2 linked regions of the Homo sapiens genome follow. The protein of the gene in region 1 interacts with the protein of each later gene in a biochemical or structural test. Each region holds a gene or a part of one and is shown on either strand. Other genes may lie near its edges.

What was found. Proteins that work in one complex are often made in the same cells at the same time.
Region 2: the proteins of CRB2 (region 1) and RHPN1 interact in a test that uses a peptide from one of them, tested with the Homo sapiens proteins (one large-scale study listed by IntAct).

What each region holds. Positions count from the first base shown.
Region 1 is NC_000009.12:123,358,946-123,362,703, forward strand, and holds part of CRB2 (protein crumbs homolog 2 precursor), read left to right. Parts: intron 1-3,758. UniProt on the Homo sapiens protein: Apical polarity protein that plays a central role during the epithelial-to-mesenchymal transition (EMT) at gastrulation, when newly specified mesodermal cells move inside the embryo.
Region 2 is NC_000008.11:143,375,309-143,379,066, forward strand, and holds part of RHPN1 (rhophilin-1), read left to right. Parts: intron 1-244; coding exon 245-360; intron 361-1,216; coding exon 1,217-1,345; intron 1,346-2,071; coding exon 2,072-2,147; intron 2,148-2,960; coding exon 2,961-3,038; intron 3,039-3,387; coding exon 3,388-3,512; intron 3,513-3,603; coding exon 3,604-3,758. UniProt on the Homo sapiens protein: Has no enzymatic activity. May serve as a target for Rho, and interact with some cytoskeletal component upon Rho binding or relay a Rho signal to other molecules.

The DNA.
Region 1 (3,758 bases):
GTGGCCTGTTTGGGTGGCAGGTGGGGAACCCCACCTGCTCTGTCTCCCCCTCACTTCAGGAGGTAACTCCCTGGAACTGTGCTCTGAGCCCAAACTCTCAAGGGTTGGTCAGTGCCAGGCACAGGGTAGGTGCTCCGTCCCTGACAGCTATTGTTGCAATTACTGTTATCAAAATTATGTCTTTTAACCTCAGAAGGTAAACATTTTTGAAAAAGAGTATGCCAAATTATTCTGCCCAAAAGAGAATTTCACCCTTTCCTGATGACTGAGTGAGTGTCTGCAAGCCTCCATGGTTATTCAGCCCTACCCTTGTAGGGTAGAGCCTTGGGGCCCAGGGATATTAGATGAACAATTTCTTCCCCTATGCTAGAAGTTCCCACACCTTATGAGATCTTAGGTCGCTTCTTAGAAATATTCTGTCTCTTGATTTGTTGGGACAGGAAGCTTCCCCAGTAAATGCTTCTTTTTTTGTTTGTGGTTTTTCGTTTTTGTTTTGTTTTTTTTTTTTTTTTTTTTTTTTTAAGAAAGGGTCTCACCCTGTTGCCCTGGCTGCAGTGCAGTGGCAAAATCATAGCCCACTGTAGCCTCGACACCCTGGGCTCAAGCCATCCTCCCACCTCAGCCTCCCAAGCAGCTGGGACTACAGGGACCCACCCCATGCTTGGCTTATTTCGTTTTGTTTTCATAGAGCCAGCGTCTCACTATGTTTGCACAGGCTGGTCTTGAGCTCCTGGCCTGAAGTGATCCTCCCACCTCAGCTTCCCAAAGTGCTGGGATTACAGGTGTGAGCCACTGCACCTGGCTTCAGTAAAACACTTCTCATCAGTTGTTGGCTGTTATAAACAGGCCCATTCTAAGTGCATGAAAAGTAGGAGTTACTAATGAGTGAGGCCTGAGACACAGTGGGATTACTGACAGCTGGGTTCTGGATAGACGGGGAAGATTGCCTGCTCTGCCCAGGCTGATATTGGAAGCTGTATTCCTGTGAAAACCTTTAGAGATTTTTTTTTTTTCCTGGGTGAGGCAGCTGTAATGTACTAAAGCAACAATATGTGAGTGGCAATTTAGGGTTTGTAAAGTGAAAATTTCACATGCATTGGGAGATGTGGACCTCTGGGAAATCAGGAGCTGATCTGATTCTTCGTCTCAACCTGGGCAAAATTATCAACCTCTCTGAGTTACAAAAACAGAAATTTTCTTAATGGCACCCACCTTTTCTGGTCTGAATCAAGTATAACAATGTAATAATAGATGCACAGGCCCAAGCACATAGTACACACTCAGTAAACAGCTGGGTCCTCCTGCCCCTCCCCAGGACAGGGCAGCAGGTCGAAGGGGAGGGGCGGGCGTCGGTTAATCCCTCCCTGCCAGGTCGGCCCAGGCAGCCTGAGGTCAGGAGGGATTTGTAAAGATAAGCACAGGCCCCTCGTTGCCCTGGCAACAGGCCCCGCCCCTCCAGCCTGGCCCGGGAAGGGGGGACAGCCCCTCCTCCGCCCTGCTGCCCTCCACACCCCGCCCCTCCTTGCCTCTCCTGTCTGGCCTGGGCTATCGTGGCCTCCTAGGCTCACTCCTGGAAGACAGAGACAACCTGAGGTCAGCGGTTCCCACACCTAAAAGTGAAAGGAATCCCCCAGGAGCAGGTTGCGATGCAGATTCTCAGGCTCAGGGCCCAGTGGTTCTAAATTTGGGGTCTGGAGTGGGTTCCAGGAATCTGTATTCTTAATGTGGGCCCGTGATTCCGGGAAGCTTGGAGTGAGGCCCTGGGTTTGGATTCCAGCCTCCCTTGGGCTGTGGACTGTGAGGCTGCTTCGAGTCTCCCTTTCCTGAGCTGTAAAACAGGCATCATAATCCTATCCACCTCGGAGGTAAATGCCAAGATCAACTGAGATGACACATGAAAGATGGCTGTCCCTCCCAGGCAGGACTGTGGCACTATTGCATGCCTCCCAGGACGGGCAGCTCCTTCCCTTCCTGCCTGGCTCTGACTGGAGAAATTCCTTCCTCCCATGGGGTTGGACTCTGTCTCCCGGGCTCTGTCATTTAGAGCCCATCTGCTCCCATGGTCCTGGGAAGATCCCTTGTGACAAGGCACCTCCCCCGCCCCCCAGGATCCTTTCCCCGGTGCTGCCTCCCCAGCGTGGTCCCAGCTGCTCTGAGATAGGGGGCAAAGCTTCAGATTGGATGGGCGGGGAGGGGGGGGGGTTCCTTGCACTGCACAGGTGAGGGACAGTGCTCTGTGGGAATTAAGTGAGGGACCTGTTGGCACAGGCGCTGGCAGCCGGGGCCCTTTACCATGGGTTATGAGTGCTGCACCCTCCTGAGCAGTGCTGGCCACACCCAGTCCCAGGGCTGTGCCCTGCATCACCTTGGTGAATCCTTTCAACACCTCCATGAGATGGGCACTTTTTGCACCCCAGATACAAACCAGGACTGCCCGATGCCCCAAACCTGTGCCCTTTCCTGGGGGAGCTGGAAGGATGCGGGTCAGGCCACAGGACAGCCCTGCCTGGAATGCGGATGACGCCTGAGAGGCTGCCAGCCTTATCTGGGGGGCTTCACCAGAGTGGGGGAGGGAAGGGTGCAGGGTCTGAGCTGTTCTGGGGTCTGGTGAGTGTCTAGATGACAACCTGGGTGGGGGAGGGGCACCTTTGGGAGCTCCGGATGGGGGTGGGGGGAGGAATGGAGGCTGTGTCTTCTGGAGGCTCTCCTCCCCCATCCCTTACCGAGTTGTTACCAAAAGCAGCCCTTGACTGCGGTGCTGGGGAGCTGAATAGTTCAGCATTTGATGAGGGGATTCTTTTATGATCTAATTTTCAGACTGGGAAACGGAGGCTCTGTAGGAGAAATGACTTACCCAGGGTCTCATAGCTAGGAACTTTCTGAGCTGAAATTGAACCCAGGTCTGTTTCACTTCAAAGCTCAAGTTCTCACCTGGGCATTGTGGTGACAAGGCTCTCAGGAAGGCAGGAGGAGAGGAAGGGGGATGAGGATCTCTGGGCGTGGCTTCCAAGCCGGTTGGTGACCCTCTGTTAGAGCCCCGGTGCTGGAAGCATCATGGTGGCCAGGGGCAGGTGTCCGTGAGCCATCTCAATACCTGCTCTGTACCATGCGACCTTGGCCAGGCCGGCCACTCAGGTGTTTGCTGATGGGGGATGAAATTAGGGCCAGGGACCCTCTAGAAGTTCCTAGGCCAGTGGCTGGCAGGGGGTGGGTAGTGATGTGGAGAAGGGGTAGGAATGAGACCAGCGGAGCACACGATCCCTGCTTTTGAAGTTGTCCACCCATCCTCCAGAGGTTGAGGTCGGGCCCATCTCCAGTTTCACCCAGGGATGGAGTTACCAGACCCCTGGCAGAAGAGGTGGAGGGGGCAGTGGGAGGAGCCTCACCCTCTGGGGCCTCCTTGGATGGATGGGGCCTGCAGGAGGGAGACCCCTCCCCAGGTGGAGCTGAAATAATCCAGATAGACCTTGAAGCCTGTCCCAGCGAACACTAACTTGCTGTGTGAAGTGGACAGGGCTGGGCAGGCTCAGCAAGCCTTCACTTTCTTTCCTGGGCCTCCTTTTGCTGTCTGGTGCAATGGGCATGACGGATACTGCCTCAAAGGGGGACTGCAGGGACAAGACAGTGGAGGGAAGCTCACGGGGCTCAGGGAACCTCTGCTCACTAATCCTGCCCAGAAGCCAGACATCCTTGGTGCTGTTTCTCTGCTATATAGGCTCTCCTAAAACCGTTCCCAGTTCTGGGTGCAGATGTGTGCA
Region 2 (3,758 bases), on another chromosome or scaffold:
CGAGTCAGCAGCTTACCCCACCGACCACGTCCTTCTGCATTGACTGCCTCCTGTCCTGCTCTGGCCAGGCCTGTGTTCACACTAGTTCTGTCCAGCCCCTCCCTGTGAGGCCAGCTCCAGCCCCAGCGCATGGTGACCATCCCGTTACCCATGGGCAGGATGCACTCCTCTCAGTGGCTGGCGAGGCGCAGCCTGGTGCGGGCGCCACGGGGTCGGGCTGTGATCGCCTGTGGCCTCCCTGCAGGGCTGTGACTCCCTGACGCAGATCCAGTGCGGCCAGCTGCAGAGCCGCAGGGCCCAGATTCACCAGCAGATTGACAAGGAGCTGCAGATGCGGACGGGCGCTGAGAACCTCTACAGGTCAGTGCTTGAGACTGCCCGGCCCCGGGAGCAGGGCCCACCTGGGTGAGGGGGGCAGGACAGCCACGCAGGCAGATGTCTGCCCCATGGCCGGGTCACAGAGACAGGTGCATGAGCAGCTGGGTCCTGGTGGGCACGTAGTACACGTGATGCTCAGCCATGACCCTCACAGACCTGCCTCCGTGGGCCTCTGTGCTGGGCTGGAGGTGCCAGGAAACCAGTGTCCCTGCCGGGTGTGCAGCTTGGGAAGCCCCAACAGTGCACGTGGGGGCTTCTCAGAAGAGGCATGGTTGAGGCTGAGCTGTGGCAGGTGATGGCGCGTCCCAAGGTTGGGGACCTGGGAGGGGGTGGAAGACCTGGGCTGCCTCTTCCTTAGAGCACACCGCCTGTGTGCCACACATGTGCGTGTGAGTGCCCCTCGGTCCCCTTAGCACCTGCTACCTCCCTGCCCCCATCCTGGCCTTCCCTGGGGACCTCCGGTCCCTTTGCCAGGCCCTGATGCAGGCACAGAGAGGTGTGTGGCTCTCACCCACCATCCAAGGAGTGATGTTTGAGTGCTGTCGAGGGCTGTATGAGCCCCAAAGAAAGCCGTGGTGCTGAGGGAGGTGCCCCCAGGCCAGAGTCGGAACATGCAGGTGCTGGGGTCGGGGTGATGAACTGTAGGGGGCATCACCTGTGAGCCCCCGGATCCCACTGCTGCCCCTGCCCCACCCATGGGGGGCAGACCCTGTCAGCGACGTCCTCTGCAGGGTGGGCTTGGAGCTTTGACAGGTCAGCTGGCAGGACGGCTGCAGTGGGCACGGGGCCTTTGGCTCTGCCTTGGGGCTGGGCTTTCAACTGCCGCGGCCTCCCTCAGAGCCACCAGCAACAACCGGGTGAGAGAGACGGTCGCCCTGGAGCTGAGCTACGTCAACTCCAACCTGCAGCTGCTGAAGGAGGAGCTGGAGGAGCTCAGCGGTGGCGTGGACCCTGGCCGGCATGGGAGGTGCGGGTGGGGGCCGGGACAGCACGTGCGTGTATGTGTGTGCACGTGTGCGTGTGTGTGTGCATGTGTGTGCACGCATGTGTGTCTCTGTGTGTATATGTGTGCATTGTCTGTGTGTGTGCGTGTGTGCATGTGTGTGCATGCATGTCTGTGCGCGTGTGTCTGTGTGCATGTGTCTGTGCATCTCTGTGTGTGTGCGTGTGTCTCTGTGTGTATATGTGTGTGCATGTGTGTGCATGCGTCTGTGTGCGCGTGTGTCTGTGTGTCTGCATGTGTCTGTGTGTGCATCTCTGTGCGTGTGTCTGTGTGCACGTGTCTGCGTGCGTGTGCATGTCTGCGTGTATGTGGGTGTGTGTTTGCCTCTATGTGTGCGTGTATGCACGTGTGTCTGTGTGTGTCTGTGTGTGCGCGTGTGTGTGTCTGCACGTGTGTGCATATATGTGTGTGCGTGCGCATGTGTGTCTGCATGTGTATGCACGCATGTGTTTGTGTGTGTGTGTGCGCGCGCATGTGTGTGTCTCTGTGTGTGTGTGTTTGCTTTTGGGGCGGTTTAGGACGGTGGGGGGTGGTGCACAGGTGCAAGGATGCCCCCCAGGACACAGGCGCACGTGCACACCCATGAGGGAGGGAGGCACCCTGTGCCACAGAGCCCTAGGAGTGGACCCCGGGCTGCCGTGGGCAGCAGGGTTTGGCCTTACAGTCTGAAGTCGATGCTTCTGGTTACAGCGAAGCTGTCACTGTCCCCATGATCCCCCTGGGCCTGAAGGAGACCAAGGAGCTGGACTGGTCTACACCGCTGAAGGTAGGTACTGGCCTCCAAGCTCTGAGATACACGGCCCTGCCCTGGGACCAAGGGGGTCTTGGAGGCTTTCTGGTCCAGCTGTCTGGTTGAACAGATAGGGAAACTGAGGCCCAGAGGGAGGGAGGCTTAAAAGGGACGCAAGGGACCTGGCAGAAATGGCCACAGGGACCCAGCCTCTGCTGCGTTCAGGGCCCCGCTGGTGCCTGCGCCCCAGGCCGGGGCTGATCCCATAGAGTGGGTGTGAACATGTGCCCTACCCTCGGATGGGCAATGCCCTAGGAGGATGGGGCCTGGAAGCCCCAGCCGGAGCACAGGGTACAGGCTCGCCCATGGAGGGCACCACTGGCTTGGGGCCACACACCCAGCACTGGCTCACGAGGGTCCTGGGGAGAGCTAGAACAGACTGGCACTGCCTGGCAGGGCCCCACGGGAGCCACTGACTGTGTTCCGTGTCCGAGTCACTGAGTGGCAGATGGCACCTGCCTCCCGGCCACGGGGATGAATAAGGAAACGCACGTAAAAGTAGCGCTGAGTCTCCAGGCCCCGCTTCTGTGATGGGGTGGGGAAACCCCAGGGCCACAGGGGCTCCGACCCGCATCAACCCACCAGGCCCCTCCATACACATTGGCCCCCAGCCCTTCTCTGGGGCTTCCACTGAGGGGCCCAGGGCCCCCACGCTGCATGGCAGCCAGCCTGCTCTGCGGCACAGACCCTCCCTCCACCATGAGTCTTTTCCCAAGGTGGGTTGGGAGACCTCAGGGAAGGAGGCCAGGCACAGGGGTACTGTGGATGCCAACACCTGCCCCCCATCAGGAGCTGATCTCAGTGCACTTTGGAGAGGACGGCGCCTCCTACGAGGCAGAAATCAGGGAGCTGGAGGCCCTGCGGCAGGTGTGTGGTTCCCCCGCCCACCCACCCTCCTGCAGCCCTGGGAGACACATGCGGAGGCTGAAGCTGAAGTCAGGAACAGACAGAGGAGCTCAGCGTAGACATCTCGAGGACGTGGGGAGACGGGCGCACCAGGGGCCCTGTGTGTCCAGACCCAGCCAGGGGGCGTGGAGGGGCTCCCAGGTGGCTCCGGTGCCGCATGCTGCTGGCCTTCGGGAGTCACGGCTGCCCAGGGCCCCACTGGCTTTGCCTCCCCGCCCCCCATGGTGCTGGTGCCCATGGGACTTCCCAGGGCAGTGTGTGTGAGTGGGGTGGGCCAGGGCGGTGGGGCCCAGTGGCTCCTGCCCTGCAGGCCATGCGGACCCCCAGCCGGAATGAGTCGGGCCTGGAGCTGCTCACAGCCTATTACAACCAGCTGTGCTTCCTGGATGCGCGCTTCCTCACCCCTGCCAGGAGCCTCGGGCTCTTCTTCCACTGGTAGGGGCTCTGCGGGCGGAGGCACCCTGGGGAGGGGAGGCCCAGCTGCGGGAACCGTGGGAACTCCACCCAGCCTGACCCAACACTGCAGGTACGACTCGCTTACTGGGGTCCCGGCCCAGCAGCGTGCCCTGGCCTTCGAGAAGGGCAGCGTTCTCTTCAACATCGGTGCCCTCCACACGCAGATTGGGGCGCGCCAGGACCGCTCCTGCACCGAGGGTGCCCGCCGCGCTATGGAGGCCTTCC